Homo sapiens: one gene and its partners. The protein of the gene in region 3 purifies or fractionates together with the protein of the main gene of each other region. This does not show direct contact. Each region holds a gene or a part of one and is shown on either strand. Other genes may lie near its edges.

Evidence for each region.
Region 1: the proteins of DTD1 (region 3) and KLHL24 purify together in Homo sapiens (affinity purification with mass spectrometry; one large-scale study listed by BioGRID and IntAct). This does not show direct contact.
Region 2: the proteins of DTD1 (region 3) and ANKMY2 fractionate together in Homo sapiens (co-fractionation; one large-scale study listed by BioGRID). This does not show direct contact.

What each region holds. Positions count from the first base shown.
Region 1 is NC_000003.12:183,682,821-183,685,183, forward strand, and holds the end of KLHL24 (kelch-like protein 24), read left to right. Parts: 3' UTR 1-1,699; downstream 1,700-2,363. UniProt on the Homo sapiens protein: Necessary to maintain the balance between intermediate filament stability and degradation, a process that is essential for skin integrity.
Region 2 is NC_000007.14:16,625,255-16,628,918, reverse strand, and holds part of ANKMY2 (ankyrin repeat and MYND domain-containing protein 2), read left to right. Parts: intron 1-553; exon of another isoform or gene 554-639; intron 640-1,740; coding exon 1,741-1,879; intron 1,880-3,664. UniProt on the Homo sapiens protein: May be involved in the trafficking of signaling proteins to the cilia.
Region 3 is NC_000020.11:18,590,915-18,594,578, forward strand, and holds part of DTD1 (D-aminoacyl-tRNA deacylase 1), read left to right. Parts: intron 1-2,816; coding exon 2,817-2,907; intron 2,908-3,664. UniProt on the Homo sapiens protein: Possible ATPase involved in DNA replication, may facilitate loading of CDC45 onto pre-replication complexes. An aminoacyl-tRNA editing enzyme that deacylates mischarged D-aminoacyl-tRNAs.

The DNA of each region.
Region 1 (2,363 bases), on a different chromosome or scaffold from region 3:
TTAAATTGCTGTGAGAACCCATATATGAAAAGAGAGGAGTTGAATTGTGTGTGCCTTTTATGTCTTGAGATTTATATGTGGAAAAGACGACATCTACTTCAAACTGTATTTTTTTCGTTTTTTTTTTTTTTTGGGGAAGGGGGGAGAACGGGGTCTTGCTCTGTCGCCCAGGCTGGAGTGCAGTGGCGCGATCTCAGCTGACTGCAACCTCCACCTCCCGGGTTCAAGGGATTCTGCCTCAGCCTCCCGAGTAGCTGAGACCACAGGTGCGTGCCACCACACCCGGCTAATTTTTTTGTATTTTTAGTAGAGACGGGGTTTAGTAGAGACGGATCACTCCTGACCACGTGATCCGCCCACCTCGGCCTCCCAAAGTGCTGGGATTACAGGCGTGAGCCACCACCCCCGGCCTGTATTTTCAGAGAGGAGAGCTTGGTGTTTTTGTGGTGCCAAGTGGTAAGATAATGTCTCTTTGAGGCTTCCTATGGACTGCCTTTATTTTAGTAAACTCAAGACACCAGTTAACCTCAACAGAGTTTTGGCCTTATTAGAATTTGTTGTGCATCTTATTGAAAGCCAGGTTTACATCACCTCACCCCATTATTCTTTTTAGTTAAATAAATTTACCATGCCAAGTAACCAGAATGGAGCAAATTGGTTGATCTTTAAGGCAGTAGGTTTGACTAGCTAGCTATCATTATTGTCACATCTAATGCTAGGCACCAGAAACCATTTGAGCCAGGAGTGTGAATGAATAATTCCAGAGACACTTTAGACATTTTTTAATGTTTTATATGAACATTTTACATTTGTGTGATTGCCTTAGATATTAAATTTTCCTAGTGCTGATAAAAACAGCAACATTCATAACTTATTTTATATATTGTTCCAAAGAAAAGAATTTGTTTTAATGGTTTCAAAATAACTGCACCTGAATTTGTTTATGTGCCTTAAGTTCTCTAGTGCTATTTCAACTTTTTTTTCAATCTAAATGAAGCTTACCTTAGATAAGGTTCATATTTGTTTCCTATAGAGTAAATAAACTTCCCCTTCTTAAATTGTGTAATAAGCACCAACGTGTGGTTGCTTGGCAGAATGAGAATGTTAAGGGAGATTGTTGGATGTTTGGAGTTTCATTATATTTTTTGTTTTTATTTTTTGATACCTAGGTGCTTTTTAAAATATTCAGACAAATATCTATCTTACATTGATTAAACCCGTGTAAATTCATTTGCAGTATCTACATCGAATGTCAAAAAAGTATACTTATTTTTGTTCCATACTTATGTACAATTTTTTCCCTCTTCAGGCTTTTTCATTTACCTTTTTGAAAAAGCACTTACTCTCCCCTTCCCTATCACCCCTCCCCCAAGGTTTCTTTATTTAAATTTTTATTGAGAGTTGTTGGAGCTCTAAGACAATACAAATTTAGAGTTGAACAAAAGTATAATCTGCTTTACAACTAGTATAGACCTAAGGTCATTTGCTTTCAATTAGAGGCTCCAGAGTCTTCATAGTGGAAAGAATGCTTTGTATTTAATTGTTCTTAGTTAAGTTGTAGCACGTGAATACTTACTTACATGTTTTGTTTAAATATACTTCTTGCATAGTTTAATTTTTTAAAAGTTGTATCTAATAAAATGTCTTTTAACCATTATTACTTGACTATATGGTTGTATTAAATTTTGTTTACGAAAAATTTGTTGTTCTGTTTTATTTTAAGTATATTTAAGGGGTTGTGCAAAAAAGAGATGGGGAAAATACTGGATATATTAATATATGTGTGTATTTACTGGTATGTCCATAAAATAACTGGAAGGATAAATAAGAAACTGAAAATATTAGTGTGTAAGAGGAAAGGAAATGGTGGCTGAAGGACAAGTAAAAATGAAACTTTACTGCATACGTATATGTGTGTAATTATAAATACATATAAAATCAATTTTTTAGTCTGAAACACACGAAAGTATTCCCTATTCAAAAAAAAAAATTTTTTTTTTCTTTTTTTGAGACGGAGTCTCACTCTGTCACCCAGGCTGGAGAGCAGTGGTGCAGTCTTGGCTTACTGCAACCTCTGCCTCCTGGGTTCAAGCGATTCTCGTGCTTCAGCCTCCTGAGTACCTGGGACTACAGGTGCATGCCACCACGCCCGGCTAATTTTTCTTTTTATATTTTTAGTAGAGACAGGGTTTCACCGTGTTAGCCAGGATGGTCTCGCTCTCCTGACCTCGTGATCCTCCCGCCTCAGCCTCCCAAAGTGCTGGGATTACAGGTGTGAGCCACTGCACCCAGCCTCTTCTATTATACTTTAAATTTTCTGTTTAAAAAAAAATGACCTGGCTGGGCACAGTGGCTCACGCCTG
Region 2 (3,664 bases), on a different chromosome or scaffold from region 3:
TGTTTTGTTTAAACTAGAGGCCAGTTCTGTAGTCTGGGGATTATTCATTCTCAGAGCTAGATAACCTCTTGTTGTAGGTTGGATTGCTGGGCAATTGACTGCCCACCTGTTCTGGATAAACAGAAAAAAACAAACTCCATGATGAAGTCGGGGTCCTAAAATCTGCAAAAGAAACAGCTGTTTGCTTCTTTGTGGTGGCCTTTCTGATGGGCCTGTGTCCTTCCCCTACCACCCCTCAGGCTACACACTAGCTTCTTATGGACAGATTCTATCATCCTTTAGGAGATATCACCTTAGTCATGCTCGCGATATGGTATTGCCTTATTTAAAAGCTAAAGGCCATGCAGTCCATTCCTACTCCCTTGAAGCACGGCAATGAGATTTACCCACACCCACCCACCCACTCCCAGCATACTAATATTCCATCTCTGTAGAGACTCCCAGCTAAGGGAGTCTTCAAAGTTATCATCTGCTTATCATTTTTCCATTCTTACTCTCAAGAAATGTCCGTTGCTTCCACGGAGTTGCCTCTTGTGCAACTGAAAGGTCCCAGCCTCTCTATCATTCTCGTCTCCACAACCCTCTGAACATAGTGTGTACTGCATTAACAAGATGATGGCTTACGTTCATAATAATAATCTGGAAGCATCAAGAATAATTTACATTATGTTAGCATTCTAAGCTTCACTAAGGTAACGGATTATATGTTTTACAGAGCGTTTCATCCAAAACAACTTTGATGTTTTGGTACTTACAGCGTTTCGCCTACACTACTGAGAAAATTCACTCACACTAACAGCTCATCCATTTACCTACCAAATAATAGTAGTGCCTAGTACATAAAAGGCTGGATGTTTTGTTGAATATGCACAAAGCATATGGAGACCAAACAGTGTAGCCTAGCGTAAATACTACCAACCATTTTTCCATATATATACAATCACATATAATCAAATCATATGTATGATCAAAATATATGTGTGATTTGACCAAACAATATAGCCTAAATACTACCAACCATTTCTCTATATTTATACAATCACATATAATCAAATCATATGTATGATCAAAATATATGTGTGATTTGACCAAACAATATAGCCTAAATACTACCAACCATTTCTCTATATTTATACAATCACATATAATCAAATCATATGTATGATCAAAATATATGTGTGATTTGGGGAATCATGGTTTTAAAAAATGATACCACTGTAATATGCATTTCCTTCACCTTTTCTCATTGACAATAATTTGTGAAAAATGTTCCAGTTCAGTAGATACAGATGAATCATTCATTTAATAGCTTCATAATATCCCATGTTATGCATATACCATACTTTATTCAACTTTCCCCTTGAGAGGCATTATTTGAGATTTTTCTTCTTTTAAAAAAATATGTTTGTATCTGTTTGTTCATTTGCTTTCTGAGAAAGTAAGTATGTTTGGAAAATGTGGGTTTCAATCCCTGCCCCCACCATTTATTAGTCATGTGAGGTTGAGCAAGTCCTCTCTGAATCTGTTTGCTAATCCGTAAAAAAATCTCCAGTAATAAAACCATCTCTTCCTCAGAAGTTTATGGAAGATCAAAGTGTGGAAGCAAATATAAAAATACATATTATAATGACCATTTTAATTAGTTCATATTCGTTTTATGTTTCTAATTGCAGAAATTGTTCATAGGTACAGAAAAGATAAAACAGTAAAATTAATACTTTTTTCCTCTTTCTATTAAAGAATGGAATGACTCCTCTAATGCATGCAGCATATAAAGGAAAACTCGATATGTGCAAATTACTACTGCGACATGGAGCCGATGTAAATTGTCATCAGCATGAACATGGATACACAGCCCTCATGTTTGCTGCACTTTCTGGTGAAGTTTTAGTATTTATAAATATAAGTTACCTATACAAACTTGTTATAAGTACATATATACTAAAAGATTAAATTCATTTTGATTTTAGTAATTTTATGGTCAAGTTTTATGGAAAGGAATGATGGCAATTGGTTTTTGAAAAGCTATAATGCAGGAAATAAATTATATAGTGAATTTGGTGATTTGTTTCTTTTGTTATTTAGATCAATTGATTCTTTATGTGGACAACATTTTGATGGAATTGAGGAACTGGATCTGTTTTTCTTTCAAGTTACCTCCTTTGATGTTCTATATCTTTATATTTTCAAGTGACATGAAAACTTCTTTCTTCTCTTGATCAAACAGTTGCCATGACAGAGCCGTCTGTTTGCCTCACTGGCACTTATGTACTAAATATGATGATCCCTTTAGAAACTTACTCGGATTTGTATTGTTTATTATTTGCTGAATAAGGACAATTTAGAAATACTGTCTACAATTAAGTGGGATTATCTGTAATTGGTGCAGCTCTTTGAAAAATACAGAAGTAATATCCTTGTACTTTGAAGATAATAATCTATATTTTCATAATCCTGGAACCCAGAAGCACTTCTAAGCATTATATAAACCACAGAATCCAAAAAGGACAATATTGATAAAAATTTAACATTTTCATTTGTAGGATATACCATAAATAGAGTTAAAATACAAATGAAAAACTAAAAATCTGTATTATATGTCTTAAAAGATTATATTGTGAAATATTAAAAGTTCTTTTAGCTGGGCACAGTGGCTCACACCTGTAATCCCAGCACTTTGGGAGGCCAAGGCGGGCTGATTGCTTGAGCCCAGGAGTTCGGACCATCCTAGGCAACACCATGAGACCCCGTCTCTACCAAAATAACAAATATTAGCCAGGGACAGTGGCGCACGTCTGTGGTGCCAGCTACTCAGGAGGCTGTGGCAGGAGGATTTTTGAGCCTGGGAGGCAGAGGTTGCAGTGAGCTGAGATCGTGCCCCTGAACTTGAGCCTGGGTGACACAGTGAGACTCTGTCTCAAAAAAAAAAAAAAAAAAAAGACTTCTTATAAATCAAGTATAAAAAGAAAAATACTACAGTAGAAAATTGGATGGAAAACAAAAGAAATACCACTGGCTGATCAAAATATAAAACATTTTGCGCAGTAATCAAAAAAATGCAAATTAGAACAATAAATTTTATTTTTTAGCTTATTATACTGGCAAATGTTAAGAAAGAGCTATAATGCTCAGGAACTTCTTTACACTATTTGGGGGAGTGCATGTCAGTCCAACCTTGCTGGATGGCAGCCTGGCAAAATGCATTTAAAATATGCATAATCTTTGATCTGGCAATATTTCCCAGGAACTGTTCCTAAGGAAATCATAATTCAAACTTGCGAAAATGAATGGAAAATACTTTTCACTGAGTATAGTTCATAATAGCAAAATACCCATAATGACTACTTTAGTAGAAGAATGTGAATAGAATAATGTGTATGTTTAGATAGAAAAAAGGTGTAGAAAGATAGATGCCCAGTGGTTAATAGTTCTTCCAGAGCCTGTAAGTGTGAGGAATGGGATGGATTAGTCGATATTAAAGGGGAATCCTATTCATTTTATCTCTTTTTAAAAAATTGTTTTGTATGCGTATTTTGATTTTATAGTAAGTGTTACCTCTAGGAAAATATATTTCATTTTGTTTAAAAAGGCAGTATTCAATTCCATACTGCCTTTGCATTGCTTGATTTGTTTTCCAGAAAATAAGGTTAATTTCTAAGGTTCT
Region 3 (3,664 bases):
ATTTGATGTCTGTGAACAGTGTTGGAAGAGGATCTAAAATGTTTGGGTTTAACTAGGTTAACTTCAAAGGTTATGAATTCTTGAAGTAGAGATCTCAGGTCTGATGCCACTAGTAGGTAGAAAAATTGACCAAACATCTCAGTCTTTTCCAGCCCTTTGATCTTTTGTTCAAAGTGGTGATTCTCAGATTTTTTCCCTTGGTGATCCATTTACTTATAATAAAAAATCCTTTTGAATCTCCTAGTCCTTCTACTTGTCCCTGGAGGGGGGACAAAACTGCTCCAAAATAAGACAGCAGTCTCTGTGTCATATATAGACTTTGGGCCATAATTTGTTTCATGTTAAGATAATTATAAAACTGTCAAAATTCTTTGACAGTGATTCTAGAATCTAAGCAGATAATCCTAACTGTAGAAAAGGCTTTAGTGTACGAAGATTTTCACTACACTGTTATTTACTGAGGTGAAAATTTTGAAAGAAGCCATATGTCCAGCAAGATGGAATGGTTAATCAGTCTACTTGATGAGCTGAATCTATTAAAAGGTGTTTAGGAAAAGGTTATGACATGAAAAAATTCTTATGCAATATTATTATAAAAATTTATATGCAATGTTATTATAGTAGTTGAAAACAAATATGAATTAAAATGTATGAATAGATACAATATTAAAAGGAAATCATTAAAATATTAAAGTACTTACCTTTGTTCTTTTTTTCATGTTTCTCATATTTTCTAAAATATATAATCCTTACTTTGATGATAGATATAACTTCATGACCTTTATTTTTTAAAACATACTTTGGGAAAAATTTAGAAAGTATATCAATATTGTAAGAAAGTAATGTTGATTTATTCAAAGAACAAATAAAGCCAAAGGCTTTTTCTGAAGCAATGCAAATGAGCAAACCAACCCCCAATTGTTTACTGCCTATGTCAGGATAGATTATTTCTATTTCAGCTTTTGAGGCAGTGGCTCAAAGGACAATAAGTCACACACACATAGTTCATTATAAGAAAAGCAGCACAGAAGAAAAGATTTAAAAAATTTTAGCCTAAAAATAAAGAAATTAAGCATTACTGATATTTCAGGAATGGATTGATGTGCTCTGCTGGGATCTGAATAGCAGGTGGTCTCTTGCCATTGCAACTGAAGAAAGAGGGAAGTTTCTCACCCTTTCTTTAGCAGTGTATTGTAACATGACATAGTCTATGTTACTGTGTTAGTTATATTTATAGCTATTACCCTGCAGAAGCAAGCAAACAGCAAGAAAATGGCTGAGGTGACCCTTCTATTCCGATTAGCACATTAGGTCAGTACAAGATGAAGTAGTAAAATAACATAATCTAATAAGATTGGCAAATAATTGGCAAAAAATAGAAAATTTTCAAAAGCACCACTTGAAATACAGATTTAGCTGGGTATGATGGCGTGCATCCATAGTCCCAGCTACTCTGGAAGCTGAGGCAGGGAGGATTGCTTGAGCCCAGGGGTTCTGGGCTATAGTACACTATGCTGACCTGCTGTCATACCAAAGTTCTGCATCAATATGGTGAGTTCCCAGGACCAGAGGACCATCAGGAGGGATGGACCAACCTAGGTTGGACATAGAGCAGGTCAGAACTCCTGTGCTGATTAGTAGTGGAATTGCACCTGTGAATAGTCACTGCACTCCAGCTTGGACAACATAGAGAGATCCTGCCTCTTAAAAAGAAAAACAAATGAAAAAAAAAACAGGGATTCTCCATCATAAAGATGCATCTTTTTTTTTTTTTTTTGAGATGGAGAGTCACTCTTGTCACCCAGGCTGGAAGGCTGGAGTGCAATGGTGTGATCTTGGATCACTGCAATCTCCACCTTCTGGGTTCAAGCGATTCTCCTGCCTCAGCCTCCTGAGTAGCTGGGATTACAGGCGCCCGCCACCATGCCCGGCTAATTTTTGTATTTTTATTAGAGATGGGATTTCGCCATGTTGGCCAAGCTGGTCTCGAACTCCTGACGTCATATGACTGCCTGCCTCAGCCTCCCAAAGTGCTGGGATTACAGGCATAAACCACCATGCCCGGCCCATAATGATGCATCTTGCTACCATTTGAGGTATCGTCTAGTGGTAGTAGGGCATACATTTGGTTATAAATACATATACAAATGTTAGGAGTGTGTGCTTAGAGCCTTTTTTTTTTCAAATGGACAAGATGCATGATTGAAAAATATTTGGAGATCATTGGCTTAGAATGTAACCACAAAACTAAACTGGGAAATAATAGCAGTTTGGTGAGTTGAAGCTTAATACATAAATTGTGATTTTTATGTATTATGTATTTGTCCTCATAGTAAGTAGGAAAATCATTTATGATATGAACATTTTCCACTTTGTGCTTCCTGTATACTGTGTTACCATATTTTTTGATATTCTGCAAAAGGCAGGAATCTCTTTTCTGAGAATTAATATAGCTGAGCTGGCTTCTCTGGGGGAGGAAAACACAGTTCTGTTTTTATAGATGGGCAAACTTGACCATAGAAAATTTTGGGTGTCTTACCCAAGGTAACATAGATGAAATATGGCCCTAAGATCCTGCTTAATGGTTGTTCACTTTACAGCTCCCATTCATTCCAGAGATAAAATCAGAATGGATGGGAATTATTATCATCTCACTGCATTTATGTAACTCTTTTCATTTTCGAATACGTACTGACTTTAACCAAAGAAGTTATAAGAAGTATGTATGATGTTTAAAATACTCCTATGGTTACTTAAAAGTGCTTTATGACCTTGTTTGGTTCTGAGTTCTTCTCTCCCTTTTGGTTCCTTTCTAGTTGGAGGAGAGCAGATTAGTGCCATTGGAAGGGGCATATGTGTGTTGCTGGGTATTTCCCTGGAGGATACGCAGAAGGAACTGGAACACATGTAAGATGCATTTCTGTCATTGCTGTTTGAGTGGGCTATGTGGTGGTGGTCATGCTGGGAACTTCCATAGTACTTTGTGCCTGTGAGGTGAGCCCCTGTCACTTTTAACCATTGTCCCATTGGATGTAGTATGGTTATCTCCGTGTTTCAGAGAAGACCGAGGAAGAATGATTTAGGAGACCTCAACGCTAAGTCAGCCTTTGAGCAGGAGCACCGCCTGTCCCCTGTCTGTTTGCTACTGTGGCCTCAGAGCATGCCTCTTGTTCTCTTAACGCAAAAACCAAGCCTCTTTTCTTATGTTTGGTTTCTCTTTTTTAAATTGGGCAGTTATCTGGGCACTATGTATTTTTAGAATGTCTACTAGCTCGCTGTGCACATAGGGATCTAGAACTCAGAGAGGTTAAATTGCTTGCCCCAGATCATGCACACACACTTAGCAAAAAGCCTGAACCCCAGTTAGAGTCTGGGCTCCCTGACCTTGAAGCCAGTGATCTTTTTACTAAGGTGGTGGCGGGGGTTGAGGAGCAGGGGTTGCCATTGCTGCTGCCTGCCTGGCTCTCTGAGTTTATAGATGGGCAAACTCGACTATAGAAAGGTTTAGGTGTCTTAGCCAAGGCAGCACAGATGAAATATGGCCCTAAAATCCTGCTTAATGATTGTTCACTTTATAGCTCCCATTCATTCCAGACATAAAATCAGAATGTGCCCTCTGTGCACCTCCTCCCCTCCATTACCACGGGGCACATTTACTTTAGAT